Linked DNA regions of Homo sapiens: all the other regions are linked to region 1. Evidence: fine-mapped expression QTL. A gene starts in region 1. Each other region holds a variant in brackets. All regions are shown on one strand. Distances are between the middles of the regions.

Evidence for each region.
Region 2: its variant is fine-mapped to the expression of CLTCL1 in whole blood (TOPMed, PIP 0.95).
Region 3: its variant is fine-mapped to the expression of CLTCL1 in whole blood (TOPMed, PIP above 0.99).
Region 4: its variant is fine-mapped to the expression of CLTCL1 in whole blood (INTERVAL, PIP above 0.99).

What each region holds. Positions count from the first base shown.
Region 1 is chr22:19,287,878-19,295,289 of GRCh38, reverse strand. CLTCL1 (clathrin heavy chain like 1) reads left to right here and starts at 3,571. Exons shown (of 33, transcript NM_007098.4): 1 at 3,571-3,690. The coding sequence starts at 3,649. LOC105372859 (a long non-coding RNA gene) reads right to left here and starts at 3,343. Exons shown (of 6, transcript XR_938002.3): 1 at 2,960-3,343. RefSeq lists silencers at 3,453-3,692, 3,574-3,758 and an enhancer at 3,869-4,382.
Region 2 is chr22:19,500,031-19,507,442 of GRCh38, reverse strand. CDC45 (cell division cycle 45) reads right to left here. Exons shown (of 19, transcript NM_003504.5): 10 at 1,962-2,081; 11 at 1-57. Among named protein-coding and RNA genes, the nearest start is that of CLDN5, 21 kb to the left of the region's middle. RefSeq lists enhancers at 571-1,071, 1,072-1,572. The variant C/T (reference allele first, on the strand shown) is at 3,571.
Region 3 is chr22:19,327,871-19,335,282 of GRCh38, reverse strand. HIRA (histone cell cycle regulator) reads left to right here. Exons shown (of 25, transcript NM_003325.4): 25 at 3,727-4,585. The coding sequence ends at 3,843. It overlaps LOC105372859 (a long non-coding RNA gene), which reads right to left. Exons shown (of 6, transcript XR_938002.3): 2 at 6,710-6,885; 3 at 5,203-5,308; 4 at 3,601-3,729; 5 at 1,540-1,581. Among named protein-coding and RNA genes, the nearest start is that of CLTCL1, 40 kb to the right of the region's middle. The variant C/T (reference allele first, on the strand shown) is at 2,249.
Region 4 is chr22:19,181,392-19,188,803 of GRCh38, reverse strand. CLTCL1 (clathrin heavy chain like 1) reads left to right here. Exons shown (of 33, transcript NM_007098.4): 28 at 713-823; 29 at 1,076-1,246; 30 at 5,193-5,414. Among named protein-coding and RNA genes, the nearest start is that of SLC25A1, 6.4 kb to the right of the region's middle. The variant A/G (reference allele first, on the strand shown) is at 4,311.

The sequences.
Region 1 (7,412 bases):
CAGTACAGTGGGATACCTCCTTGGTGGTACCAAGCCTCCAAATTTTGTCGTCCTAGGGCAATGAGAGTGTTAAAAGTGCTGCTCAGAGTCCTAGTGTCTCAAACATTCATCTGGAATTGGCAGATGCCTTTCAAGAAAAAGCAGCCATAAACCACTCACCTCTCTCATGTCCTTTCTCTCTGATATTGGCCTCATAATTATTCACTGCCTTTTTAGTTCTCTGAAGCTGTCTGAAAACTAAAGTCCTCCAGTGACTTTTTCTTTTTTAAAGACAGGGTCTTTCTCTGTTGCCCAGGCTGGAGTATAGTGGTACGATCATAGCTTACTGTAACCTTGAGCTCATGGGCTCAAGTGATCCTCCTGTTGCAGCCTCCCAACTAGGCCTATAGACATGCATCACCATGCCCTGTTAATTTTTAAATTTTTTTGAAGAGATGGGGTTGACCAGGCTGGTCTTGAACTCCTGGGCTCAAGCAATCCTCCTACCTCAGCCTCCCAAAGCGCTGCGATTATACGCCTCCACAGACTTTTCAATTCCACCTATAGGAAAGTCCCATGGGAATTGGAATTTAGCTATAACATGTCGTTTCTTGTACCAGTTATTAAATAATGTCTTTCAGCTCTATTCTCCCTTCCCACCTCTAGACACTGCTTCTGATGCCAGGGCTGAGACTCTAAAAAACATATTTCTCATTGGCAAATAAAGAAGATCTGATCTAATATTCCCTATTAGACTAAGCTGATAGGTTGATAGAGGGAGACCACAGGGCCACTTCCTGTGAGCATCACCCCAGCTAGGCTTCTTCAACAAGGCAGCAGCACATTCTTCCCACAGAAGCTGAATCCAGTTTAAGTTTTTCCAAGACTTGCAGAACCAGCCTCAGTATGCCTTCTCCTTAGAGATCTGGGTGAGAGTCTCCCAGTGCCCTCTTTAGAGGGCTTACTCCCAGCTCCACAGCCACCCCTCATCCATAGTGTGTGTCTAAGTCCCGTAGGGACCCTCCTCAGAGGTCTGAGTCCCATCCCCATGGGATCTCTCCTCTGGGCTCAATGACCCCAGCCCCAGCTGGTCAACACACCTCCTCAGAGATCTGAATTCCAGCTCTGCAAGCCCTTCCTTTAAGCTGTAATAATTCCAGCTTCTCTTTCATCTTTGAGCTCTAGGGGTGGTAGCTGTGTCCTATGTTTGTAACTCCATATCTTGGGATTTTCTTTTTATTATTTTAAATTTACTTCCTGTTAACTATTGTTTATATTCAGTTCCCTTTGTTTAAATAACTGATGCACTTTCTCTCTCTTCTGTGGTTTGAAGGTTTGTGTCCCCTTCAAAATTAATGTTGAAACTTAATCCCGGGCCAGGCGCGGTGGCTCACACCTGTAATCCCAGCACTTTGGAAGGCCGAGGTGGATGGATCACCTGAGGCCAGGAGTTTGAGACCAGCCTGGTCAACATGGTGAGACCCTGTCTCTACTAAAAATGAAAAATTAGCCAGGTGCGGTGGCGTGCGCCTGTAGTCCCAGCTACTTGGGAGGCTGAGGCAGGAGAATGGCTGGAACCTGAGAGGCAGAGGTTGCAGTGAGCAGAGATCGTGCCACTGCACACCAGCCTGGGCGACAGAGCGAGACTCTTGTCTCAAAAAAAAAAAAAAAAAAAAAAGAATTGAAAGGTTTTTTTAGGGTTACTTAGCAAGTTACCTACAAGTGGTGAGAATATTAAAGTCCCTTTCAAGTCAGAACATTTAATTTTTTTACAAGTATATTAACAACTTTATTTCCTGTTAACTACAACTATCACTTATATTCACTTCTGTCTATTCAAATAACTGTTGTGCTTTCTGTCTCTTCTATGGTTTGAAGAGACAGAAAGATTTGTGTCTCCTCTAAAATTAATGTTGAAACTTAATCCCCACTTGAGGTCCCGACGTATTAACAATCCTGTCACTTTGCTTAACTATGATTTTCTTAAATTCTTTCTTTTAGGGTATAAAATTTTAGTTTTAATCCCCAAAAAGCCCTGGGGAAGGTGATTTAGGGAGTGATGGTATTAATTACTAAAAAATTTATATAATGTTTGGGGTAAAGGGTACTTGGAGTCACAGGCATCATTGCCAAAATAAAGAGATTTGGGAAATGTAGTACTAACCACAGCAAAACCCAGCTCTATATTTAGCGGATGAGGCCACATGGATTTTAGAAAGGGCGGGCTGCAGAGGTCTTGGCTAATACTGGAAAAGAGATTTAATTTGAAAGTGAACAGTCTGTTCTATTCCTTAACATATTTTTGGCTACTAGATGGTCAAGCCATTGCGCAAATAATTGCACCATCCTTGTCTTATTCAAGGTGGGCCGTTCATTTCTTAAAATTACCAGTGAGCAACATGGGAAGCAGCAGAGACGGCTATCGATTACCCCGTAGGGAGTGCCTGTGCTGAATGCCAAGGGCTTCCCTTTCCTGACAGACATCTTTTATGCAGCTGAATCATCTGTATGCAAAACATCAGCCAACGGTGCCTCGGAAAAACAACTGGCTGCTGGGCAAACCAGGTGTGGGCTCCAGCTTCCACCTGCTACTACTGTCGTGCAGCCACGGGCACTCTGGGTGATCCTCACTGGCCTGGGGCTGGTCATCTGCTGCTAGATGACCTTCGCTGACTCTCTACATTGATATTCCGACACAGTGTTCTCTAGAAACCGCATGAGCCAGGAAAGGTGTTTCCTAAAGGAGCAGGGGCCGAGCCTCACGCCGAAACACGTCTGTAACACGTACAGTCACGCGTCCCATGCATCCATGCATTCTGAGACATGCGTCTCGGTTGTGGGATCATCACAAGGTAACTTACACAAACTCAGATGGCACAGCCACTACACAACTAGGCAGCTGATGCGGTCCGCTGCTGCTAGGCCGCAAACCCGCACCGCGTGTGAGGTGCGTTATTCCCCTGGCACGGTAATGACATACCTGTACGTGTATCTCCAAATACAGGAGAGGAAATGTCCTTAGCTAAGCCCTCACCAGAGGACAGGAAGTTTCCAGCTCCGTTATCATGTTATGGGACCACCGTCATATACACGGTCCTCCTCAGACCAAAAGGTCGTTCGTTATACGGCACATGTGGTTCTTCCAAGACCCTTTTCCATCTTTCTGTCACATCCGTGCCTGAGTAAAAAGTGGCCCTGAACTCAACCGTCCAGAGTTGGCGGCAGAACTAGCACCACTGGCCCGCTCCACATGTGGAAGGCGCTGGGCAAGGGCCGCCGCAGACCCCATCAGGATTAATCCCCCGAAAACCTTTCACTCGGGTAGCTGGCACACACCGCGTCAGGGCAGAGGGCGCGCGGGACTACTTTCCGCGGACCCTCGGAGCGGGCGGAGGGATCCGCGCAGGCGGGACGGGGCAGAGGCGGGGGCAGGGGCGGGGGCAGGGGCGGGGGCAGGGGCGGGGCAGAGGCGGGGCAGGGGCGGGGCAGGGGCGGGGGAAGGGGCGGGGAAAGGGGGTGCGGGCCGGGGCGCGGTCAGGGAGGAGGGCGGGGGCCAGGACCGGGAGCTCGGGGCACTGCGCCTGCGCCGTCGCCACCGGTCAGCCCGCGCGAGGGGTCGGCGTTCATTCCTGCCGCTGCCGCCGCCGCCGCCGAGGTCCCGCACCAGCCATGGCGCAGATCCTCCCTGTTCGCTTTCAGGAGCACTTCCAGGTGAGGCCCGGCGGGCTGGGGGGCTGCCCTGTCAGCCGCGCCTCCGCCGGGCCGGACTGCCAGGCTTGACCCCGCGCCCCCAGCCCCGCTGAGCCGCTGCCCAGCTGGCCGCGCCGATTTCCGACCTCCCACCTGGGCTGGGGCTGCGGCGTCCCGGGCGCGGCGGCCGCTCCTGAGGACCCGCTTGGGTGCCGTCGCCGAAGCCCGTTACCGGCGGGGCCGGCTGGGGAATGGTGGGGGTGGAAGCCAACGCCCCCTGGGACGCCCCGCTCAGTGCCCGCGAGGAGGCACACAAATTCCCGCTGCAGGCAGGGCAACCCAAGGGCCGCGCGGATCCCACAGCTCCACGCCCCTCCTTGGCGTCCTGCGGTCCTTATTCGCCCCTGAGTTTGCCTCTGTGATCGGTTTTCGTCCCCAGGGCGGCTTCGCCTGGGAGGACCGTGAACATGCGTGACCCAAGAGAAAAATTTCTCAGGGCCAAGCCTAAATAGGGCTTTTCAATGCAGTAACACCCCCAAAGCCTGCCTTTTTAATAAGGTCCCAGTTTGTTCTCCATTTGTTTGTGTTCAGAAACATAAGGACTGGCCCCCTGCTTTGAGCAAAGGCTCAGGTCGGGCGTCGTGCGGGCCGCTCGCGGGTCTGCCCGGGAGCGGTGCTGGTCCCCACGTTTACCCTGGGAGGTGCGGCAGAGGAGGGATAGCCAGCGGCTCCTCCCTGAGTGCTCTGTGTTAAATCATCACACTACCATTCGTTGCGATTCGCTTACTCTTTTCTAGATGAGGAAACCGAGTCTCAAAAGTGTTAAAGAACTCATCTTCATTCAATAAGAACAGGATTCAGACTCAAGTCTTTTTGACCACAAAGTAGTACATCGAGGAACGTGCTTGCTTGAAAGTTCCTATTTTCACAGTGCAGAGCACTGTTAGCCCTAGATGCAGACGGGAAAAGCCTTGGGAACTGTGTAGTGCAGTCCAGTCCCCTCATTCTGCAGACTGGAAACTTGATATCCAGGGGATCCTGCCAGGGTCACTTGGTTAGTGACACAGTGGAAGTTGTATGGAGGTGGGAGTGCCCTGACATCTGTCCGGGCTTCATTCTGCCACTAAGCTAAGCCAGCACCAGTCATGTTGAGGTAGCAAAATACTGCTGCTGCTCATAATAATGATGATGATGTAGTTATCATTTACTGAGCCGTTTCTCTTGCCACTCACTAGACTACTGTATTTTATAAATCTGGTTTAATTTAATCCTCATGATAACTGAGGCAGATAGTGATATCCTGTTTTCTACCATGGGTCACTGAGGTTAATATTCTAATTCCTTCAGCAAAAGTTACATGGCTAGTAAGTGACAAAGCTTGAGTTCTAACCCAGGTCTGATTCCAATGCCTGTGCTTAACCACTATCTAAATATGTTCTTTTCAAAGGGCAAGAAAGCAACAAGATATTTTAGGTGTCCATCAGAGTTTCTAATGTCCATCAGGATTTGTAATGTCCATCAGAGTTGATATGTTCCATTATCTGGAAAATGCTTGTGGCTTGTGGTGGGCAGCCACGTGAATGCAAGTCTGGTTTGTGGTCTCTAACACTGACTGGGTCTTTGAGGCTGCTGTGCATTCTGTAGAGCAAACACTGAGTCAGCACACACTGCCTTCACTACAGACATTTCGAGACTTCAGCCTGTTCCTTAAATCCCTGATCCTGCCACTCCTGCCTTGCAACCAGCAGATGACTTGGAGAAAACTGAAGCCATAACTGGGATGTTTCTCACCTATATGGCTGCAGACTTAGATGTTTGTCTGCAGCCACCCTTTCCTGCCTTCCTGTTACCTCAAAAGTAGGTGTCCTTTCTTGTCTATGTTCTGGATCTGGTATCCTTCTTCCCTATAAGGGAGCCTCGTTCAGTCATAGCCTCCCTTTCCTGTATTTTCATCCTTCTGTCTTGTTGTTTCTTCCTGTTTGTGTTGGGCAATGCTCACCTCTCTTCCATCTGTACAACCAGCAAACTTCTTCCCCCGCTCTTGTCCCCACGAAGCTCTTGTCTCATAGCTGGATGTCATGAAAGAGCTGCTTTAGTGCTTCATTATTTTTATGTTCCACAGTAACCTGCAGTCTGGCTTTTGTCCCCATTTTTTCCCCTGAATCTGTTTTTGCCAAGGTTACAAGCCATCCTGCAGGCTTTTTTGTAAGGGCCACATTCTGTCTCTGTCCCATATTCTTACATTTTTTAACCTTCTAAAAATATGAAAAAGACTTTTAGTTTAGCCATACAAAAGCAGGCTGCAGTTGGCTAATCTTTGCTGTAAAAAATAAAATCAGGCCGAGCATGGTGGCTCACACCTGTAATCCCACCACTTTGGGAGGCCGAGGCGGGTGGATCACCTGAGATCAGGAGTTCGAGACCAGCCTGGCCAACATGGTGAAACCTCGTCTCTACTAAAAATACAGTATTAGCCGGGCGTGTTGGTACGCACCTGTAGTCCCAGCTAGTCAGGAGGCTGAGGCGGGAGAATCTCTTGAACCCGGGAGGCAGAGGTTGCAGTGAGCCAAAATCATGTCACTACTCTCCAGCCTGGGTAACAGACCGAGACTCCGTCTCAAAAAATAAGATGCGATGAGCTAGGTGAGATAAAGCCCATCACACCACACGCATCTTCTGTGATGTCCAGCCGCATTTGATGCTGCACTTTACTGCCTCCTGAGGGTCCTTTCTCTACTGTTTTTGGTTCCACAGTTTCCCAGGGTTTCTCCTTCCTCTCTGCCCACACCCACTGCCCCATGGGCGGCTCTTGTGCATGAGCTTGGAATCTGTCTTGAGCCCCTCTGCTTTTTCATTCAGGACATGCTGCTGGTGATGTTATGTATTCCCATAAGCTTGATGTTCCCAAGCCATCCGAGTGTTTTCGCAGTTTCACTGCTGTGTGTGTGTGAGGCAGTAGCAGGTCCTGGTTAAGAGCACAGACTGAGGCCAAACTGAAGGCACTGAATGTGGACTCAGGCACTTACTGGCTGTGTGATTTAGGGCAATGTTTGTAGCTTTTTTGTGCTTCTATATCTTCATCTATAAAATAAGGATAAAAGGTATACTTCTTATCTCACAAGGTAGTTGTGAGGTTTTTGAGTTAATAAATGTAAAGCATTAAACAATAACTGTTACATAATACAGTAGTCCCGATTTACCCATGGGGAATATGTTCTAAGACCCCCAGAGGATGCCTGAAACTGCAGATTGTTCTGAACCCTTTATACACTTTTTTTCCCTATGCATACATATGTATGATAAAGCTGAATTTATGTTAAGCACAGTAAGAGATTAACAATGATAACTAATAATAAAACAGAACAATAATAACAATATGCCAGCATCACTACTGTTGGACTTTGGGGCCATTATTAAGTAAATTAAGGGTTACTTGAACACAAACTCTGTGATGCTGCAACAGTCAACCTGGTAACTGACCGCTACTAAGTGACTAATGGGCTGGCAATGTCTACAGCGTGGATATGCTGGGCAGAGGAGGGATAATTCACGTCCTGGGTGGGCTGGTGCAAGATTTCATCACTCTGCAGAATGGTATGCAATTTAAAACTTATGAATTGTTTATTTCTGGGGTCTTACATTTAATATTTTCAGACTATAGGTAACAGTGTGAAAAAAACCACGGATAAGAAGGGACTACTGTAAAGCACTGTGTCCTTGTGAGCTGTTGCTGCCATTGTGAC
Region 2 (7,412 bases), 210 kb before region 1:
CTGGTGTTGCACAGGCTGTCATGGAGGGACCAGTGCTGGTAGAGCACCAGGCGGAGGCTGGGCCTGCAGTCAAGGAGCATGCAAGCACCCACTGGCCGCCCTGAGCACTCTCGTAACTCCAGCAGGTGGGCCACTCTGATGGCGGGGCCCTTTCTCACCAGGCCTGCCTGCAAAACCAGGTATCCCAAGAGTGACCTGGAGCCCTTTGACCTTCTTAGCTTAAGCTGACCCATACAGAGAGCCTGTGAAGTGACAGGCATAGACCACCATCCGTCTGACAGGCAGAGAATCTGGAGCACAGGGGTCTGCAAAGTCCAGGTGCTGTGGTCACATGGAGCAGTCATGGCCACACATGACGTAGGAGGCTGGGCGTCACCAGCTTGTCGTCCTGCACCTCCTGCTCCACCTAGCCCAGCCCTCCCTACAACCCATTCCTCCGGAGAGCCCTCCACTGGGACCCCATCCACGAAGCGCCCCCATCCTCAGCCCTTTTTTCGTTTTTTTTTTTTGAGACGGAGTCTCGCTCTGTCGCCCAGGCTGGAGTGCAGTGGCACGATCTCGGCTCGCTGCAAGCTCCACCTTCTGGATTCACGCCATTCTCCTGCCTCAGCCTCCCGAATAGCTGGGACTATAGGCACCCGCCACCATGCCTGGCTGATTTTTTGTATTTTTCGTAGAAACGAGGTTTCACCGTGTTAGCCAGGATGGTCTCGATCTCCTGACCTCATGATCCACTTGCCTTGGCCTCCCAGAGTGCTGGGATTACAGGCGTGAGCCACAGCGCCCGACCTCCTCAGCCCTTTTCTTAAACATATCCATCACTGCCCCTGGCACCGTGAGCGCAGTTGTGAGTGTGGACTGTCCCCCACGGTGGATTTCCCCTCTACAGGACGAGAGCCTGGTCCTGCCTGCTTCCTCGGCATGCTCAGTTCCCACCACTGCCCCTCCCAACTCCTGGGAACTCCCAGGCCTTCAGACCACCATGCTCCCTGCCCACACTCCAGCAGCTTCCTCAAGCCCCAGCATCCTCAGCTCCCTGACTCCCTCCCTCCTGTCTCAGTCACACACTCCCATGGTCCCTGGGTAAGTGAGCCCACCCTGCCACGCACATGATGGGACCAGCTCCAGTGCACAGCGGCTCCCCTCCCCAGGAGTTCAGCCAGCTCCACCCCGCTCCCCAGGCTCCGATGGCCACCTGACTACTGACGTGTCCACCCTCACTCTTCCTCCTTCCCAGCCATCACAGTGCAGAGACAGGGCAGCTCCGTCCCTGACATCATGCTATCTGACTGCTTACAGCCACTGCTGCAGTTTGGGCCAAGCCACTATTGTGTGGCCTTGGAAAGCAGTGACCATCTCCTTGCCCCCAACCTACCTCTACTGGGCAGCCAAGGGACCTTTTAAAAACCCTGACTCAAACTCTGGTCACTCCACAGCCTCCCGCTGCCCTTGGCTCACAAGGCTTGCTCTGGCCTCCTGACACCTGACCCCAGCCAGTCCCCCAGCCCCTCCTGTGCTCAGTACAGCAGCTGCCACACTGAGTGTGGCTGAGACTGTGTGAGATGTGGTCTCCCCATGGTCTTTTCTGAGCACTCCACCAATGTCCCATGTGCTTCTCAAAAGACACGTCACGCTGTGTGATTACATGGCAGCTGCCTTCTTTCCTGACTGCGTGAACCACTGCCCGCACTGCTACCATGTCCAGAGCCAGGCCCACAATAAGCACTTTACAGGGATGTGCTGGAGAAGGGTGATACTTCCAAACTCAGCTCTGGCATTTAGAAGCCAAAGCCACACAGATGAGCTGGGGTAGCACACCACAGCCCCTTCCCCCAAAACTTCCTGCCCCACCTGCTTTCCCTCCTGGGGATGTGGCCAGAACCCACAGAGGGTGACAAAGCAAACAAGGCCTGCTGAGCAGGGGTGCTGCCTGTGCCCCTCAGGCTGGGCCACAAGGATACTCATACTCAAAGGAGATCCGTGTGCAGTCCACGGAGAGTGTGTTCTCCTCATCCTCGTTCCGGTGGTTGTGGCGGGAAACGTGGCGCTGCAGGACACCAACATCAGTCACGTATTTCATTCTGGAAAAAAAAGTAGCACAAGCCTCGGCTGGTTCCCTCCAGCTCTTACCAGGCAGCCTAAGCCTAGGCTCCATTCCCGCTCAAGGCCTTCCTCAGGGGCCTGCTCACCACAGGAGCTGTTCCCATGCAGGGACTAAGGACATGCAGCCTGCATAGAAACCAAGCACCCAGGAAAACATGATTGGATGGAGCGGGGGGGTGTGGTCTCTAGCCTTGTCCACCTCCGGTCCTCATGGGTCTCACACCTCCTGAGAATGGGCACCGCAGAGGCCACAGCCCATACAGCCAAGATGACAGACTCCGTAAGTGACAGGGATCCACAGCAGAGTGGGTGAAATGTTCCCTATAAACTTTACAAAATTAATGAGGGCAGGGGGAGGGGAGAAATGAAAATGAACCCAGCTCGCAGCACATCAGCATCAGTCACTAGGTCGGCGTGCTCTCTGACTGCTTCCTCGTAGCTGCTTGGTGTCTCATTGCCTCAGAAGCATGTAGACCCTGTCACAAGATTGTAGTTCCCCTAACTGCTCCGTAGATCACAACTTGAACCTTAGGAAATGCTGTTTTCCCTTTGAGATATTCCTTTGGGTCCTGTATACTGATGGAGCTACTGACTGAGCTGCTCCGAAGGACCCCACGAGGAGCTGACTAAACCAAGAGTGCAGTTTGTACACCCTGATGATTACATCCCCCTTGCCCCACCAATCAACTCTCCCAATTTTCCAGCCCCTCACCCTCCAGTCCCCTTAAAAGCCCCAGCCCAGGCCGGGCACAGTGGCTCATGCCTGTAATCCCAGCACTTTGGGAGGCCAAGGTGGGCAGATCACCTGAGGGCAGGAATTTGAGACCAGCCTGACCAACATGAAGAAACCCCGTCTCTATTACAAATACAAAATTAGCCGGGCGTGTTGCTGCATACTGGTAATCCCAGCTACTTGGGAGGGTGAGGCAGGAGAATCACTTGAATCTGGGAGGCGGAGGTTGCGATGAGCCGAGACAGCGCCATTGCACTGCAGCCTGGGCAACAAGAGCAAAACTCCATCTCAAAAACAAACAAACAAACAAAACCAAAAAAGCCCAGCCCAGAACTCCTCAAGGAGATGGATTTGAGGATCTCCTCCCATCTTCTCACTCGGTGCCCTGCAATCATGAAACTCTTCCTCTGCTGCAAACTCTGCTGTCTCAGTGTAACAAGTCTGTTACTGCACAGCAGGCATACAAACCTGCTGGTCCTATAACACATTATGGTGAGTCTAGCCTCGAGCCCCTTGTGGGCATTTGCTTGCCTGCGGCTTGGTGCGCCTTCGCTGTTCAGTGGGAAGGACCCAGAGACAAGCCCAAAGCCCAAGCGGCCACTGGGTTCCATTGAACTATATGGGCTGCCACCCGTGCCCTGCCTGTTGACAGGGCAATGTCAACCTTTGGTGCATAGACTGCTCGCAGCAAAGCAAGTTTCTGGTTTTGAAAGGCATCTTAGGTAAGTTTTCTC[C/T]GTGCAACCAGCACCCTTTTCTCCTCTGATTTGCTGGCCTCTTTGGAGGTCCTGTGGCCTCTTCAAAGGTTTTGTGGCTCCCTCTGAAGTCTCGAGGCCTCTTCTGAGGTCTTGTCGACCCTCCCTAATAATAGGAAGGGCCTCGTTTGAGGGGACTTCCTCTGCATTGGAAGGAGACCAAAGAGCACTGCTTGGGAGAAATCCTCTTGACTTCTGAAATTTGGAACTTGATTTCGGAAGGCCTTTTGTTTGTCTTTGTCTTGTTATGTAGGTTTATGTTTGTGAAAGGGATCCCTGAAGGAATTGCTAGCAGCAGCTCAGCAGGCCTAACTCAGGTTGACCATATACTTTTTCATCTTGCCCAGAGACCACCCGCTGAACTCCTGGTTGGAGGTAATTCCTCCCAACTTTGAGTAGATCAAAGGTGCTGGGGGCTGACAGGGGCAAGTATGAGCCTCGCCACGTCAAATCTGGGCGCAGAGTGGAATGATCAGTGTCTGCATTTTTGTTGTGTGTATATCGTCTCAGCTGGAATGAGAAATATTGATTTGGTTACTCCAAGCTGGGCACTGGGCTGCATCTTGTGAAACTGGGAAGACAAGAGACGTACATCTTCATCAGGATAGTGCAGTGGGTAACCTACCCACTAAAAGAAGAAATTCCTGTGGAAAAACTATGAGAAAGTTTCTGCCTGCTTTCTTTTTTTAAAACAGGGTCTCACTCTGTTGCCCAGGCTGGAGGACAGTGGTACAATCATAGCTCACTGAAGCTTTGACCTCCCGGGTTCAAGTAATCTTCCCACTTCAGCCTCCCAAGTAGCTGGGACCACAGGCATGCACCACCATGCCCAGCTGATTTTTTTTTTATTTTTATAGAGAGGGGTTCTATGTTACCTAGGTTGGATTCCTGCAATCCTCCCACCCCCGACAAAGTGCTGGGATTACAGGCATGAGCCATCACCCCTGTCTCTTTTCTGTCTGCTTTGAATCTGGTATTATTAAGCTACTGGTATTGAGAAAAGACTCACTGTCTATGGTATTATTCAGAGCTACTTGGAGATTTTGTTTTGCTTATACAGCTCAGCCAGTTGTAGCTAAAATGTAATCATTGAAAACTTGAAACTGGAGAAAAAAAGAAAGGGTAAGTTTTTAAAATCAAACTGCTATAGAAACTGCTTTATTCAAAATTTTAGTTCACAGCCTTCACTGAATTACCTACTGGGATAAACAAAGTTTATTTATGTGAATGGTTCCAATTTTGTCAGAAATAATTTGGATCCAGCCCTCTTTTATAAACTGGTGAGTTTGTACTGCTGTCTCATGGCTAGAGTTCTGCAGTAAAAGCTGTACCTTTGTATGTGTGTGTATGTGGGTTAAAATAAATTTAGATGTATGTACATGTTGTGTTATGTGTTGTGCCTACATGCTACCAAATTGGCTTATAAATAAATGAGTGCTCATAAACAAAGTAAATAAGTTCAAATATTTTTCAACTTCATGTGACTTAAATGATCTTTAGTAAATAAGCTGGCTTTAAAATTATTGGTAAAATAAAAATAGAAACGTCTTCAAAACTATCAGCGTACATCTTTTTTCTGAGTTTATTGACTGAACGATTTTATATTTGTCTCTACTGGATATTTAGGGTGTCAGGACTTTGCATAAAAGGTTTTAAGACTGTAAAACTAACCAAAACCAGAATGATCTTTGTATGACTTTTTGACAAATAAGATGAATATTGTTGGTTTAATGATAACAGCTGAATCTTCTGAGTTGTCAGCAAAAATACACATGCATTTAACTTTAAGGTTCTTAGGTGAACATCTGATGGTCACAGGCTATAAAAATGATTAAGAAGGCCAGGTGTGGCAACTCACATCTGTAATCCCAGCACTTTGGGAAGCTGAGGAGGGAGGATTGCTTGAGCCTAGGAGTTTGAGAGCAGCCTGGGCAACAAAGTAAGACCCCATCTCTACAAAAAAATCAAAAAAATTAGCCAGGCATGGCGACACATGCCTGTAGTCCCGGCTACATGGGAGGCTAAGGTGGTAGGATTGCTTGATCCCAGGAGGTCAAAGCTGCAGTGAGTTACGTTCATGCCAACACACTCCAGCCTGTGAGACAGAGCAAGACCCCATTTCAAAAAAAGAAAAAGGTTAACAATAAAATAATTTGAAATGATGACTAGTTTTGTCTCTCAGTTTTCATAAGTAATCTAGGCAAACTTAAAAATGCATGAAATGTAAATTGTATGAATGCTTCTAGGCAAACGTTCCATGCAGCTTAAAATCCTAAAATTATTTTAGATGCTTGTTGGGTGTCTGGGTCATTTCCAGTTAAGAAAGGGTTATAATATGTCACAAGATTCTGAGGAGGCCACAAGACCTCCAAGGAGGCCAGCAAATCAGAAGAGAAAGGGGTGCCAGTTGCATGGAGAAAACTTTTCTAATGCCTTTGAAAACCAGAAACTGTCTTTGCTGCGAGCAGTTTATGCACCGAAGGTTGACACTGCTCCGTCAACAGGCAGGGCACCAGCAACAGCCCATATTTCAATGGAGCCCAGTGGCCACTTGGGCTTGTCTCTAGGTCCTGCCCACCGAACAGTGAAGGGGCACCTAGCCGCAGGCAAATACCCATAAGGGGCTTCAGGTAGGCTCTCCATAATTTTTTGTTTGTTTTGGTTTGTTTTTTTTTGAGACGGAGTCTTGTTCTGTTGCCCAAACTGGAGTGCAGTGGCACGATCTCAGCTCACCGCAGCCTCCGCCTCCTGGGTTCAAGCGATTCCTCTGTCTCACCCTCCCGAGTAGCTGGGACTACAGTACAGGTGTGCCATCATGTTCAGCTAATTTTTCTATTCTTAGTAGAGACGGTGTTTCACCATATTGGCCAGGCTGGTCTCGAACTCCTGACCTCAGGTGATCCACTCACCTCTGCCTCCCAAAGTGCTGGGATTACAGGGGTGAGCCATCGCGCCCGGCCTCCAAAATGTGTTATAGGACCAGGCGGTCCATATGTCCACTGTGCAGTAACAGACCTGTTACACTGAGACAGCAGAGTTTGCAGCAGAGGAAGAGTTTCATGATTGCAGGGCACCAAGTAAGGAGATGGGAGGAGATCTTCAATCCATCTCCTTGAGGAGTTTTGGGCTGGGGCTTTTAGGGAGACTGTGGAGGGCTGGAAAATTGGGATAGTTGATTGGTGGGGCAAGGGGGATGTAATCATCAGGGTGTACAAACTGCACTCTTGGTTTAGTCAGCTCCTCGTGGGGTCCTTCGGAGCAGCTCAGTCAGTAGCTCCATCAGTATGTGGGACCCAAAGAAATATCTCAAAGGGAAAACGGCATTTCCTAAGGTTCAAGTTGTGATCTATGGAGCAGTTAGGGGAACTACAATCTTGTGACAGGGTCTACATGTTTCGGAGGCAATGAGACACCAAGCAGCTACGAGGAAGCAGGCAGAGAGCACGCCGACCTAGTGACTGATGCTGATGTGCTGCGAGCTGGGTTCATTTTCATTTCTCCCCTCCCCCTGCCCTCATTAATTTTGTAAAGTTTATAGGGACAGTTTCAGGTACAGATCCTGTACAGGAAGTGCCACTGAGCACAATGAGAGCAGGAAGACCCCACTCTAGGTTCCAAAGGGCCACCAACCAGGACAGTGACCGTGGGGGCCTCACCTGAGAGACTGCTACAGACCAGGAACAGTGCCTATCAGTGCATACACCATGGTGTTTCTAGCCCCTACATTATCTGTGCACAAATTCCATGCTACTCTTAACACACGAAGGGACTCAGGGCCCAACAGGGCAGTGGGCTGTGCCAAGGTGACCTGTCCAGGCCGTAGC
Region 3 (7,412 bases), 40 kb before region 1:
ACAGAGCGCAAGACCCTGTCTCAAAAAAAAAAAAAGTCAAAAAGTTCTGCCTTTTTAAGCCAAATAATGAAAATGTAGTTTGTAATTATAACATATGTAGAAGTGAAGTGGCATGACAGCAGTATCACAGACGCCAGGAGTGGGGATATGAAAGTATACCATTAAAAGATTTTTACACATTATGCAAAGTGATATAATACTTGAAGACAGACTATGATAAGTAAAGGCATATACTGTATGTTATATGCCCTAGAGCAACCACCAAAACCAAAAAATAAAACTCATGCACATACACATACAAATCCCAAAGCAGTAAAAAGAATCGTAGCTAAAAAACTAACAAATAGATAAAATTGAATGATAGAAAATAATACATTCATTCAAAAGAAGGCAGAAAAACATACATAGGATGGTAGATTTAAACCCTAATATATCAATAATCATTAAATATAGGTCTAAAAGGCATAGATTATCAGATTAGAATTAATAACAACCAGCTGTATGCTGCTTATAAGAAACCCAGCTTACATGTAATAACACAATGGCTTAAAAGTAAAAGGACTGCCGGGTGCGTTGGTTCATGCCTTAATCCCAGCACTTTGGGAGGCCAAGGCAGGTGGATCACCTGAGGTCAGGACTGGCTAATTTTAGTATTTTTAGTGGAGATGGGGTTTCGCCATGTTGGCCAGACTGGTCTCGAACTCCTGACCTCAAGTGATCCAGCCGCCTCAGCCTCCCAAAGTGCTGGGATTATAGGCGTGAGCCACCGCGCCTGGCCTAATTTTTGTATTTTTAGTGGAGATGGGGTTTCGCCATGTTGGCCAGACTGGTCTCGAACTCCTGGCCTCAAGCGATCTGCCCGCCTTGGCCTCCCAAAGTGCTGAGATTACAGGCATGAGCCACTGTGCCCATCAGACATAAGACTTTAAAATAAATGTCTTAAAAAATGCTCAAGGAGAATACAGACAACTAAACAAAATCAGGAAAACTATATATGAAGAAAATGAGGGCCGGGTGCAGTGGCTCATGCCTGTAATCCCAGCACTTTGGGAGGCCAAGGCGGGCGGATCACAAGGTCAGGAGATCGAGACCATCCTTGCTAACATGGTGGAACCCCATCTCTACTAAAAATACAAAAAAATTAGCCAGGCGTGCTGGCCGGCGCCTGTAGTCCCAGCTACTCGGGAGGCTGAGGCAGGAGAATGGTGTGAACCCAGGAGGCGGAGCTTGCAGTGAGCCGAGATCACACCACTGCACTCCAGCCTGGGCGACAGATCGAGGCTCCATCTCAAGAAAAAAAAAAAGAAAATGAGAGTATCAACAAGGAGATAGAAATTCCAAAAAAAGAGCTAAACAGAAATCTGGAGTTTAAAAATACAATAACTGAATTGAAAAGTTCACTAGAAGGGTTCAACAGCAGACTCGAATAGACAAAAGGGTAAATCAGCAAACTTGAAAACAGGTCATTTGAAATTATCAAGTATGAGGAGCAAAAAGAAAATAGAATGAAGAAAAGCAAACAGAGTCTAAGAGACTTACCAGACACCATCCAAGTATACCCATGAATCCATAATGGGAGTTCTAGAAGTGTAAGAGAGAGAAAGGAGTAGAGAGCTTATTTGAAGAAATACTGGCGGAAATTTTCCAAATTTGAGGAAAGACGGGGGTCTACTAATACAAGAGCCTCAGTGAACTCTAAGTAGGAAAATCCCAAAGGAACCTGCACTGAGACACATTAGTCAAACTGTGGGAAAGGAAAGACAAAGAAAATCTCATCCTTGATGTCAGTTTTAAAATAGTATTCCTGATGTTTTCTTTATGGTAATAATTAACTTTTCCTTTCTATTTCTTTTTGAGCTAGTTTTGATAAATTATATTTTTCTAGGAATTTCTCCATTTTCTCTAAATGTTCAAATTTCTTAGCATAAAGTTGATAGTAATCATATCTTTTTCTTTCTTCTATATCTGTAGTTATGTCTCTTTTTATTTCTAATATTATTTCTTTAAGCTTTCTCTCTCTTTCTTGATTAATCCTGCCAGACGTTTGTCCATTAGTCTTTTCAAGAAATGACTTTTGCCAGGCATAGTGGCTCACGCCTTTAATCCCAGCACTTTGGGAGAACAAGGCAGGAAGATCACTTGAGCTCAGGAGTTTGAGATCAGCCTGGCCAACAAGGTGAAACCCCGCTCTACTAAATATATAAAAATTAGCCAGACATGGTGGCACACACCTATAGTCCCAGCTACT[C/T]GGGTAACTGAGGCAGGAGGATCACTTGAGCCTGGGAGGTTGAGGCTGCAGCGAGCTGTGATTGCACCACTACGCTCCAGCCTGGGCAACAGAGCTAGACCCTGTCTCAAAAAAATATATAAAATAAAATTGTTTTTCTAAATCTTCTCTATTAAATCTTTGTTTTCTATTTTATTTATTTCAATTTTTATTATCTCCTTTTTTTAAAAAAAATGTTTTTTTCTCATGTCCTTTTTTTCTTTAGTCTTTTTTTTTTTCCTTTCCCCTGATGGCTTTAGGTTGGAGTCTTGGCTTGTCATTCTTTCATGTTCTCTAATACAGTATAAGCTGTTGTTTCTAAATGCCTCTAAAGTGCCCACTTTTGCTGAATCTTACCACTTTTGGAGTATTTTGTGTTGGTTTTTTTTTTTTACCATTCTCTTGCAAGTCATTTTTAATTTCACTTAATTAGAATTCCCCTTTGACCTATGAGTTTTACTCAATTATTTTAGTTAGAAAACATGATCTATTTTAGGAGTTGACAAACTTTTCTGTAAAGGACCAGATAGTAAACATTTCAGCCTTTGCAAATCCATACCATCTCTGTTCTGACTATGGCACTCTGGTGTCAGAGCCTCCCTGTTGGAGTGTGGGCTGCTCCTCCATCAAACTTGGTCGCCAACAGCAGCCATTCTCCTGCTTATCCCATCTCTAACAACTTCTGTGTTACTCAAACCTAATAGTTACACTTATTCTTTACTGTCACTTCTAGACTTGTTGCAGGTATATCTGTCACCGTTAATTCAAGATCTTAGACCTTCTCGTCCAGTGTTAAAGTTGTCTGGCTGGTAGTTTTCCCTTTGGAGCAGCCGTACTGCTCAGGAGTCTGCTCTTTTGGTCTGTGCAGCAGAGACCCCAACTGGCAATGCTTGTTTCAGACTGTGGTGCCAATATGACCTGACGTGGAGGATGTTTAGGCAACTAAGCATAGTTTGGTCAGCATCCGAACATCCTCCACATCAGGGGATACTGGCACCTCATTTGTGTTGCTGGAAAACTAAAGCCAGTCACTGCCCCCCAGGTGCATCCTTGCCCTGGGGCTTGACCTCAAACCCCTGGCAAACATCAGCATGAGGGAACAGCCCCTCCTGAATGGCCAGCCACCTGACCCTCAGCCTTGTTCTACTCTCATCCTGCCCTGGATGGTCAGGGAACTGCTCAGTCACTATAAGGTCAGCAGTGGCTGTGCCCACGGATGGAGGAGCAGACCCTGCATTGGCCTCATCCTCCTTTATCCCCACACTGTGTTGCTCCCATTCCACCTGCCACTTCATCCTGCACATTTGCCCCACAGCTCTCTCACAGTTTCTCACCTGCAGAGGAATTGTTCTTTCCTTCTCCCGTGAGCAGACACAAGGTTCTCTGCCAGGCCAGGAAAGTCCCCACAATCTAGGTCTCTTCACTGACACTTGCACTCAGCTGTCACTCTGTGTCCACAGGGTCTGCGGAAGAGGGAGCTGCTGAAGGAGCTGCTACCAGTCATCGGGCAGAACCTCCGATTCCAGCGCCTCTTCACCGAGTGTCAGGAACAGCTCGACATCCTGAGGGACAAGTAGCCTGCCCCAGCCTGCCCTGGCTGCAGCAAGGGCAGGGCCACACTCTCGCCGCTGATGACATGCAGGACCGCCTCTCACCTGACCAGGCTGTAGGGGGAGGAGACACTGGCAGGAGATGTGCTGTCCTGCACCAGCGCCAGCCCAGCTCCCTGGGCAGATGTGCCCTGTGTCCTGGGTCTGACATTGCCTCAGGAGGGGGAAGCTCATCCCTCCCTCCAAGCCCCCGATGCGGAGCTAGGGCTGGAGCTCTGCCCAGGTGCCCTGGGGCCAGCAAGGCAGTCCCAGGCCTGCCGTCTCCAGCACGGCCCCAAGGTGGACACTAGCCCCTGCTGCTGCAGGCACCATGCTGCTTCAGCAGTGACGATTGAGCCATTTGTGAGAGAGAATCCGGAAGCGTTAGGTATTACAGCAGACTGACCTAAGACCTATGTAAAAGGAAAGCTGTTCCAACACACGGACTATTTTTGTACTAGAATTTGCTAACTTGTAATATTGAATTTCCTTTGGCCGATAATCAGGATTTCCCTATAAGTCACTTGGACATTGGTCACTTGTAGGAAATTTAAACTCTAATTATGACAGCTACACTGAAAAATAATTGTACTGAAATTAACTTGTCTATCTTCATTTGGTTTTAATTTTTAAATGTTTGTAAAAAGAGACTGTTTTGGGGGAATGGGGCAAAGGGGTGGGCGATTTCTTTTGTAAGTGTAAAATAAATGAACACGCATTGAATACCAAACCCTCCTGATTTCTCTTGCCTTTTCCTTCTAACTTTCATCCTCCCCACACAGTGCATCTCTCTCCTGAAGTAGATGGTGACAGAACATGAGAGCCAGAAGGGATCCTTTGTGTCATCTCATTCCCCCCTGTCATGGTTAATACTGCGTGTCAACTTGATTGGATTGAAGGATGCAATATTGATCCTGGATGTGTCTGTGAGGGTGTTGCCAAAGGAGATTAACATTTGAGTCAGGCTGGGGAAGGCAGACCCACTCTTAATCAGGTGGGCACCATCTAATCAGCTGCCAACGAATATAAAGCAGGCAGAAAAATGTGAAGAGATGAGACTTGCTTAGCCTCCCAGCCTACATCTTTCTCCCGTGCTGGATGCTTCCTGCCCTCAAACATCGGACTCCCAAGTTCTTCAATTTTGGGACTCGAACTGGCTCTCCTTGCTCCTCAGCTTGCAGATGGCCTATTGTGGGACCTTGTGATTGTGTAAGTTAATACTTAATAAACTTTCATATATATCTATTAGTTCTGTCCCTGTAGAGAACCCTAATATACCCCCCATGCAGAAATTCATTTCACAGTGTAGAGTGGTCACTTCTGTGGTCATGAAGCACCATAGGTCACCTTGCACACGTCATCTCACAAGTGAGGAGTCATGGTTCATGGTGGTTCATGGTTCTGGTCTTGCTGTGCCCCAGGTCCAGATCATACTGTGCACCAAGGGCTGCAGCTGTTTGGACAATTTCATGAAAGGAAATCAGTATTTACAGTCTTGGGTATATTGGAGAATTATCAGCAAAGTTGGAATTTTATTAGAAAGTGATCCAGACGTTGATCTACAGGAGAAGAAACAGAATCACAGAATCTTTAAGCACAGTGAGGGCTGAGTACCACCCACTCCTGGGTCCTGATCTTTGTCACCACCACCCAGTGTGTGGGTCTGAGCCTGGAGAAGGAGCCTTGGACTTGGAGTCAGAGGCCGGGGTAACTGACCACTGATCTCTGGCCTAGCAGCCATTCCACTCCATGTCTCACTCGGATGTCAAGTGGCTGGATGAGACCCAGGCATGTGTTCATGCCAAATAAAGCCAGGATAGTTTGTGTGAGTGTGTGTGTGTGTACACATAAAAAGCCAGGCTGCAAGTGGGACTCTTAAGGAATGAAGAGCCAGAGACTTGCTGTGCAGGTGAGGCAGCTCCCTTAGCAACTATGCAGCAAGACATTGCGAGCTTTGTGGAGCTCCAGGAAGCAATATATGCCAACAGGCCTGTCTGGGCTCCAAACCAGCAAACATCTGGGCCTCAGTTTTTTAGCTGTCAAATAGAGATTGAGACTAAAAAAATCTGCACTGGGGTCGGGCACAGTGGCTCACACCTATAATCCCAGCACTCTGGGAGGCCAAGGTGGGCAGATCACGAGGTCAGGAGTTCGAGCCAGCCTGACCAACATGATGAAACCCCCGTCTCTACTAAAAATACAAAAATTAGCTGGGTGTGGTGGCACACACCTGTAATCCCAGCTACTCGGGAGGCTGAGGCAGGAGAATTGCTTGAACCCGGGAGGCAGAGGTTGCAGTGAGCCAAGATCGCGCCACTGCACTCCAGCCTCGGCAACAGAGCAAGACTCCGTCTCAAAAAAAAAAAAAAAAAAAAAAATCTGCAACGTTATGAGGACAAATTGAGATTGTGTGGGCAAAGTCTTCGCACGTTTCCTCCCTTGAAGGAAACAGCAGTCGTGAGTGACTTTACCACCACCGTTTGGAGATGATGAAGAGATAAGCAGAAAACATCAAGGCCTTCAACTTACAGACAAGATGGAGTAACAGGGACCAGGTTGACCCTTCTACCTGAAACAACCAAAGGAGCCCGTCAAAAATACATGCAATGGTGGTTTCAAGACACTGGATACCATGCTGGGCACAGTAGCATGCGCTTGGAGACCTAGCTACATGGGAGGCTGAGGTGGGAGGACCATTTGAGGCCAGGAGTTCAAGGCTGCAATTAGCCATGATCATGGCACTGCACTCCAGCCTGGGCAACACAGGAAGATCCCATCTTGAAGAAAAAAAAGAAAAAGAAAAAAACAGAAGAAGACACTCCAGGTAGTACGCTTGGGCAATCATGGGGCTCACCTTGTTTGTATCCCATCTTGGCAGGGATTACTGTCCTTTGTTTTCTGATATCCAGAGAGAATTTCTAGGCCACAGCAAGAGGAGGCAGAACTGAGGTAGAGCCCAGTGGACTACTTGAGCTGAGGAAATGGAGCTGAGAGTCCAAGGAGACTAAGGCAGCACTGCTTCAGATCCACCTACCAAAAAATAAAAGCAAGACCCAAAATGATCACACTGTTTCCTGACCAACATAGTAAAACCTCCTCTCTACTAAAATACAAAATTAGCCAGGCATGGTGGCACATGGCTGTCATCCCAGATACTTGGGAGGCTGAGGCAGGAGAATCACTTGAACCTGGGAGGCAGAGGTTGCAGTGAGCCAAGATTGCACCACTGCATTCCAGCCTGGGCAACAAGAGTGAAACTCCGCCTCAAAAACAAAAAATTAGCCAGTCATGGTGGTACACACCTGTAATTCCAGCTACTCAGGAGGCTGAGGCATGAGAATCGCTTGAACCCAGGAGACAGGTTGCAGTGAGCTGAGATCGCGTCACTGCACTTCAGCCTGGGTGACAGTGCGAGACTGTCTCAAAAAAAATTTAAAAAGCTGGGCGCGGTGGCTCACGCCTGTAATCCCAGCACTTTGGGAGGCTGAGGCGGGCGGATCATGAGGTCAGGAGATCTAGACCATCCTGGCTAACACGGTGAAACCCCGTCCCTACTA
Region 4 (7,412 bases), 110 kb after region 1:
TGTCTCTACTAAAAATACAAAAATTAGCCAGGCGTGGTGGCAAGCGCCTGGTCCCAGCTATTCAGGAGGCTGAGGCAGGAGAATTGATTGCTTGAACCTGGGAGGCAGAGGATGCAGTGAGCCGAGATCACGGCACTGCACTCCAGTGTGGGCGACGAGCAAGACTCCATCTCAAAAAAAAAAAAAAAAGAAAAAGAAATTGCCACAGCCTCTCCAGCCTTCAACAGCCACCACTTGTATGAATCAGCAGCCATCAACATTGAGGCAAGACCCTCCCCAGCAAAAAGATTACGAGTCACTGAAGGCTCAGATGATTGTTAGCATTCTTTAGCACTAAAATATTTTTAATTAAGGTGTGTACTGTGTTTTTGTAGACATAATGCTGTTACACACTTAGGCTACAACATAGTGTAAACATGAATTAATATGACTCACTTTATTGCAATGTTCACTTTATTGTGGTGGTCTGGACCCAAACCCATGTGTCTCTCTAAGGTGTGAATGTCTGTGGTGACATTGGCATCCACTGAATCGCCCAGACAGTCCTCTTTGTGTGAGTGTAGGTCTTTTGGTTCTAGGTGTCCAGAAGGTGCCCTTGGCTCCAGAGCTGGACCATTCAAGTGGATGGCACGCACGTGCCCACCTGTGCCCCTGCCTAGTGTCCCCATAACAAGCTTGGCCAAGTGCCTTGACGGTTCCCTCAACTTGTCAGGCAGGTCAGCTGCCCCTGGTGAAGCCTTACCTGCGGTCAGTCCAGAGCCACAACAACAAGAGTGTGAATGAGGCACTCAACCACCTGCTGACAGAGGAGGAGGACTATCAGGTGGGTGTGCAGGAAGGAGCCCTGTCCTGGGTGGGCTGGGCTCCTCCCCTGCAACTGCCATTCTGTTCTCAAAGCAGGCTGCCTTTGCACAGGAGGGTGTGCAGGCCCCACAGGACACCAGTGGATATATGGGCAGGGGCCTTTCTAAGGCTGTGCTGATAGCAACAGCCATCAAGTAACACAAGGTGCCTGCTCCATGTGTAGGCAGCCCATGTCAGTGTCCCATCCCTCACAGAAAGGCTGTCTTCCTAGGGCTTAAGGGCATCTATCGATGCCTATGACAACTTTGACAACATCAGCCTGGCTCAGCAGCTGGAGAAGCATCAGCTGATGGAGTTCAGGTGCATTGCGGCCTATCTGTACAAGGGCAATAACTGGTGGGCCCAGAGCGTGGAGCTCTGCAAGAAGGATCATCTCTACAAGGTTGGTGGCCTGGGCCCGTTTCCTCCCACCTTCCTGCCTTGGTGTGTTTCCTGATGGCTTTGGGGGTCACATCCCTTCCCTCTTGTTCCTGAGACCTGGCTCTGAGCTTCACCAGGGGATCCTCGTGGTGGGTGGGGGGATTAGTATTAATGGGAGACCATATTTAGAACATAGAGTAAGAATTGGGAGTGAGCTAGCACCCCTTAAAAACTGTTTGGATTGAAAGACTTGTAGAGTTTTACGGAGTTGATTCTTTTCGCAGCAGTTTTGTGTGAGTTTCACTCTACCAAAACACAGTGTGGCAAGATTCACTTCTTGGCACCTACTTTACTTCCTATCAAGATTTGGGAACTTCCCTGTAATCTCAGCACTTTGGGAGGTTGAGGTGGGTGGAGTGCTTGAGCCCAGGAGTTTGAGACCAGCCTAGGCGACATGGCAAGACCCCATCTTTACAAAAAATTAGCCAAGTGTAGTGATGGACATCTGTGGTACCAGCCACTCGGGAGGCTGAGAAGGGAGGATCACTTGAGCTCAGGAGTCAGAGGCTGCAGTGAGCTATGATCACACCACTGCTCTAGGCAACAGAGTGAGACCCTGTCTCCAAAAAAAAAAAAAGATTTGAGGAATTTAAAAACCTAAATTAAAATCACATTCAAAGGCTGGACGTGGTGGCTCACACCTGTAATCCCAGCACTTTGGGAGGCTGAGGTGGGCAGATCATTTGAGGTCAGGAGTTCAAGACCAGCCTGGCCAATATGGTGAAACCCTATCTCTACTGAAAATACAAAAGTTAGCCGGGTGTAGTGGTGCACTCCTGCAATCCCAGCTACTTGGGAGGCTGAGGCAGGAGAATCGCTTGAACCCAGGAGGCGGAGGTTGCAGTGAGCGGAGATCACGCCACTCCATTCCATCCCGGGTGACAGAGTGAGACTCTGTCTCGGAAAAAAAAAAAGGAAAAAAATAAATAAATCACATTCAAAACATTTGTTTCAAAGCTGGGTACGGTTGTGTGCACCTGTAGTCCCAGCTACTTTAGAGGCTGAAGTGGGAGGATCACTTGAGAGGAAAAAGAAACTGTGTTTTTTCTGCTGGTGAGAGGTTTCTTAGTATCATTCTCAGACCGGGATCTGGGCATCAGCTAGACAGGTTGGGCTGCCTGGAGGGACCCCCAAGACCCTGAAGGCATTAACATCCTCTGCTTGGCCTGAACATCTCCCCGCGGGGGTGAGGTGGAGTTGTACAAGAGGGCCCTTGTGGGTGCTGTGTGATGCAGCTGAGCCAATTCCCAAGGGCTCCTTGTGCCCAAAGACTCTGGACTTGACCTGAGGGTGTTACTTACGGAGTTGGCCTTAGGCATTCCTGAGTATCTTCACAGGACACATGGATACTTGCCACTTCCTGTCCCGCACAGGGGCCTCATTCTCATGGCTCCTGGTCTGCGGCTGTTGGCTCAGACTCCGTGGAGGCCTCTGATGCCTGCATCAGTGTTGCATTGAGTTTCACCCTAAGTTGTCACCTCCAGTGTTCTGGACTGTTCTGTGACATATCCTAGCCCTTGGTGACAGTGCTTGTGATCCTTCCTGAGGTGCCCACAGGGCCCCTGCAGAGGGAATGGAGAGGAAAAGCTGCTGAGGCTCTGAGACCGCACCTGGAGGTCTCTGGACCTGGCTGCTGGGAGGAGACAGCTGGGCTCAGACGCACCTGAGGGAAGGCTGCCCTCGGCTGGCTGATCACAGCCATTCTGTCCTACCCATGTGGTCCCTGTCAGGGGCTTAAACACACAGCCTCCTCAACACTCAGGCAGTGATGAGTGAGCAGGGCCATCAGTGCTGCCAGAGGCCTACTGGCCTTGCCAGCCACCCACTCCGAGCCACGTGGGCCCAGAAGAGAGTCCAGAGGACAAAGCCACAGATAGAAAGTGGCCGAGCACAGGGCCGGGCGCGTTGGCTCATGCCTGTAATCCCAGCACTTTGGGAGGCCGAGGCGGGCGGATCACAGGATCAGGAGATCGAGACCATCCTGGCTAACATGGTGAAACCCCATCTCTACTAAAAATACAAAAAAGTAGCTGGGCGTGGTGGCAGGAGCCTGTAGTCCCAGCCACTCAGGAGGCTGAGGCAGGAGAATGGCGTGAACCCAGGAGGCAGAGCTTGCAGTGAGCAGAGATCACGCCACTGCACTCCAGCCTGGGTGACAGAGCGAGACTCCGTCTCAAGAAAAAAAAAAAAAAAGAAAGTGGCCGAGCGCGCTTCCCCCAGAACAGTGGCTGTCAGCCAGGAATGACTGTGACCCCAGGGAATGTTTGGTTGTCACAGCTTAGGGCGTGGTGCTGTGTATAGGCCGTAGAGGCAGGGATGGGGCCCACAAGCCCCAGTGCACAGGCGGCTCCCCAGACCTCCCAAGGTCAGCACTGCCACTGGAGGAGCCTGCCCTGAGGCCAGAGCTGAAGCCTCCTGGAGTCTTCCTGGAGGAGTGGCCAGGTCACAGCGTGTCCAGTCAGGGCAAAGCCAGCTAGCAACAGAAAACTGTATTTCCAGATGACAGAAGTAGCATTTAAATGAAAGTTCGGTCAGTGGGGCCCTCCCACACCCACCAGTGAAGAGCAGGGGCCTGCGGAAGTACAGGTGTAGACTGGAGAGCTGGACACAGGGATGGGGACCAGGATGAAGCCTCCCTGAGAGTGGCATGGGCCGGGGAGGTGATGAGAGAGGAGGGTGTGGGAGAGCCTGACTCGAGCTGGGCTCCAGGCCGCAGGAGCGGGACACTGACTGGGAGCTTCCTGGGGGCTGCTTCTACTGGAAGTCCTCTGGGAAGGCAGTGAGACAGTCCCCAAGGCCCACAGAGGAGGAACAGAGCAGGGCCCACTTTAGGCACATGTGGAAGACAAGTCAGCAAGGGTAGGCTGGGCCGGTGGAGGGCACGGCAGGGAGACAGATGAGCGGGCGTCACAGGTCCTCAAAGCGGAGACCCAAAGGCACCTGGAGCTCTCACCTGAGGGTCAGAATCCTGGTGCCTTTGTAGGAACAGTGTGGGTCAGGAGGCAGCGATCGATGAGCAGCATGCC[A/G]GCGGGGGAGACTTCTTTCCGGAGCCAGCTCAGCACATCGGGTCCATGCAGATGTGGGCACTGGGCGTCCTCAGGGGTCTCCCAAACGGAACTCAGAGGTGTGTGCTGCAGGCGATGGCAGGCATGCAGAGCTGGGACCGCCACAGGGTATCCCTGGAGAGCACAGGTCACAGTCAGTGGATCATGGCCAACTCCAGGTGGAGTGGCCCTGGGCAAGTGACTACATCTGGGTCTCAGGTTCCTGGTCTCTGAATGGGGTACTAATAGCCCCTGCCATAGAAGGAATCAGGTGATCCAGTGCCTGCTGTGGAGCTAGAAAATAGAGAATGGCCACAGAAAGTGCAGGCTTCTTCAGGACTGGTCAGGTGCAGGTGTTATTTTGTCAATGATATTGTCTTAGACAAATACATTTGCAAGGATGAAAATAGCAGTTAGGGGTTTTTGAGCCACTTGAAAGAAAAACACATTGCTGTTTCTAGAGCAGTAGCCGTACCCCTCCTAACTGCTCCCCTGGTGTCACACGCTCCATGGACCTGAGTGCAGCACCTCTGCAGCAGCCCCACAACCCCCAAACTCCCATCAGTGCCTTCCTCAGAGCAGCCTGTGCACGCCCTCTGCCCTCGGGGCTAGAGTTCCTGTCTCCCAGGGCACCTGCGCCTCCGTGAGCCACCTGTCCCCTCCAGAGCCTCCGGAGGTGGCATCTCCGTTTCACCAGTGGGCAGCAGGGCATAGGGAATGGCCCAGCCATGGGTCCAGGCTTGCTCCACAGCGCAGGAAGTCCTTGGTGGAGTCTAGTGCCACTCCCTGCCCTCCGGCCCAGCTGCTGCAGGCACAAAGCCTCTGCCTGCAGGATGCCCAAGCAAGCATTTGCCTTGGCTGCAGGATGCCATGCAGCATGCTGCAGAGTCGCGGGATGCTGAGCTGGCCCAGAAGTTGCTGCAGTGGTTCCTGGAGGAAGGCAAGAGGGAGTGCTTCGCAGCTTGTCTCTTCACCTGCTATGACCTGCTTCGCCCAGACATGGTGCTTGAGCTGGCCTGGAGGCACAACCTCGTGGACTTGGCCATGCCCTACTTCATCCAGGTGATGAGGGAGTACCTGAGCAAGGTAGGTGCCGGGCCGGCTGCAGCTCCCCGGCCCCTGTGTGGCATGACCCAACCCTGGCAGTGACTCTGGCCGCAGGTCTTAAGGGTGGGCCCCTTTGAGGCCAACCCAGATTCCCCAGCCAGCCCTGGCTGCCTTCAGGAGTGGCTGCTTTCCTTCATGCTGAAGTGGTTTTCTGCCCAACGTTAAGCCCCTCCAGAAAATCATCATGGGGAGTGCCCACTGGCAGCAGCCCTCCTGTAGACTCTGGCTGGGCAGCTGTCCCAATGTGCACACTGCTAGGAGCACAACAGGCGTGCTCATCCCCAGCCCTGGACTTCAACAAGGTGACAGTGAGGTGGCTGGCAATCCCAGCTCCCTGAGGAGCTCCCAGTGGCGTCTGGGGGTGCAGCTGTTAGCATACGGTTGGTGGTAGCTGCCTTTTGCTGAACACATAGTAGGAGTATTCACAGATCCACTGAATCCTTCTAACAGCTATAGGGAGGATGACTCTCTGCCTCATCGAAGTGACAGTACTTGATTGTAAAACTCTCCCTGGGTGTTGAAGTCCTAGGAGTCCCTGCTGGGATCTAGCTTTAGCCACTGTCCAGAGACCTGTGTCAGCAGTGTCATCTGGTACAGTTTGTTGTTTCTAACACTGGAAAAGCTACTTCCAGTAGCATCTACTTGCCTATCTAACCTCCTTCAAGCCAGATGGAGAGCCTCGGAAGGCACTCATGCTGAAGCATCACTCAGTGGAGCGAGGGAAGGGAGGGGCCTCCCAGGTGAGTGGGAGGTAGGAAGGAAACAGGAAGGCGGGCTCATGCTGCCAGCTTTAGCCTGGAGGGCTGCCTGCCGCCTGCAGAGCCTCCAGGGGGCTGCCCAGCCCCTGATAAAGGCCATCCCAGAGTCCATTCAAGGCCGTTGCCCTCCTGTAGGACAGTGTGACCCCATCCCATCTGCATAGCATGCCTGAGTGAGACTCCCTGATGACTCTCAAGGGTTGGGGAGGAAGGGACAGCCCTGGCTACGTGGCCTGAGATTCGTGGGCTGCCAGGGGACATGGACTGGTTGGATTGACAAGGGCCCTGGTTCCCCCACCACAGTGGATGGCAACTCCCTACAGGCGGCACGTGTGGTATGTGGTTTGTGGTATGCAGTGTGTGGTGTGCGGTGTCTGGTGCGTGCCTGTGGAAGCTGCTGTCACCATGATGAGCAGGTTTTCCCATCCCTCGGGTGTCTTTCCTGAAAGTAGTCTGTGTTCTGAGAACCAGCACAAGGAAAGAAAGTGCTTGAATCTCTTCCTGGCAGTAGAGGCCCGTGGGTTAGTGTCAGAGGAACTCAGGCTCACCAGGCCCTAGGGAGTGTCATTGCTGTGGGGGTCAAAGTGCTTGTGGGGATCCCCCAGGACTTTGAGGCGCACATTCCCTTTCTGTTGCGGATGATGGAGTTAGCAGCCACTATCACGTTGGTCCACACTGTGGCTGCACAGCCTTGGCCCAGGGTTCCCAGACTCCACTGGCCCTGGGAGGTGGTGGCTGCTGGAGCACCTTCTCTGCTGCCACCCACCTATTCCTGCTGGGGCAGATGAGACGCCTGTCATGGGGAGAGTTCAAGGAGAGGAGGGGGCTGGCAAGGGGTTTCCCAGTCAGTGGCATGGGGGTGTGAGCTGATTGTCAGCTTGAGCTGGTGCTCAGCTGACACCACACAGCAGTGCTGGGAGAATGAGGGCGCGGACAAGAAGCACAGTCCTTTCCTGGTGGACAGCTGGGCCTGGGGCCTCGTGGCTCATCTGGGAAGCTTGAGGGCCATCCCTCTGAGACGCCCCCAGCGCTCTCCCATTGTAGGGAGGGTACAGGCCTAGCTCAGCCCTCACCCTAGGTGTCAGCAAGTGTGCCCCCTGCTTCCTCCTCATTTCTCAGCCCCCCCCAGACCCCAGCTCATGGGGGGCACATTCTTATTTCTCTTTCTTACTCAGTGTGTTTGTGAGGGGATCCTAGCTGCACAGTTGCTGCCGCCCCT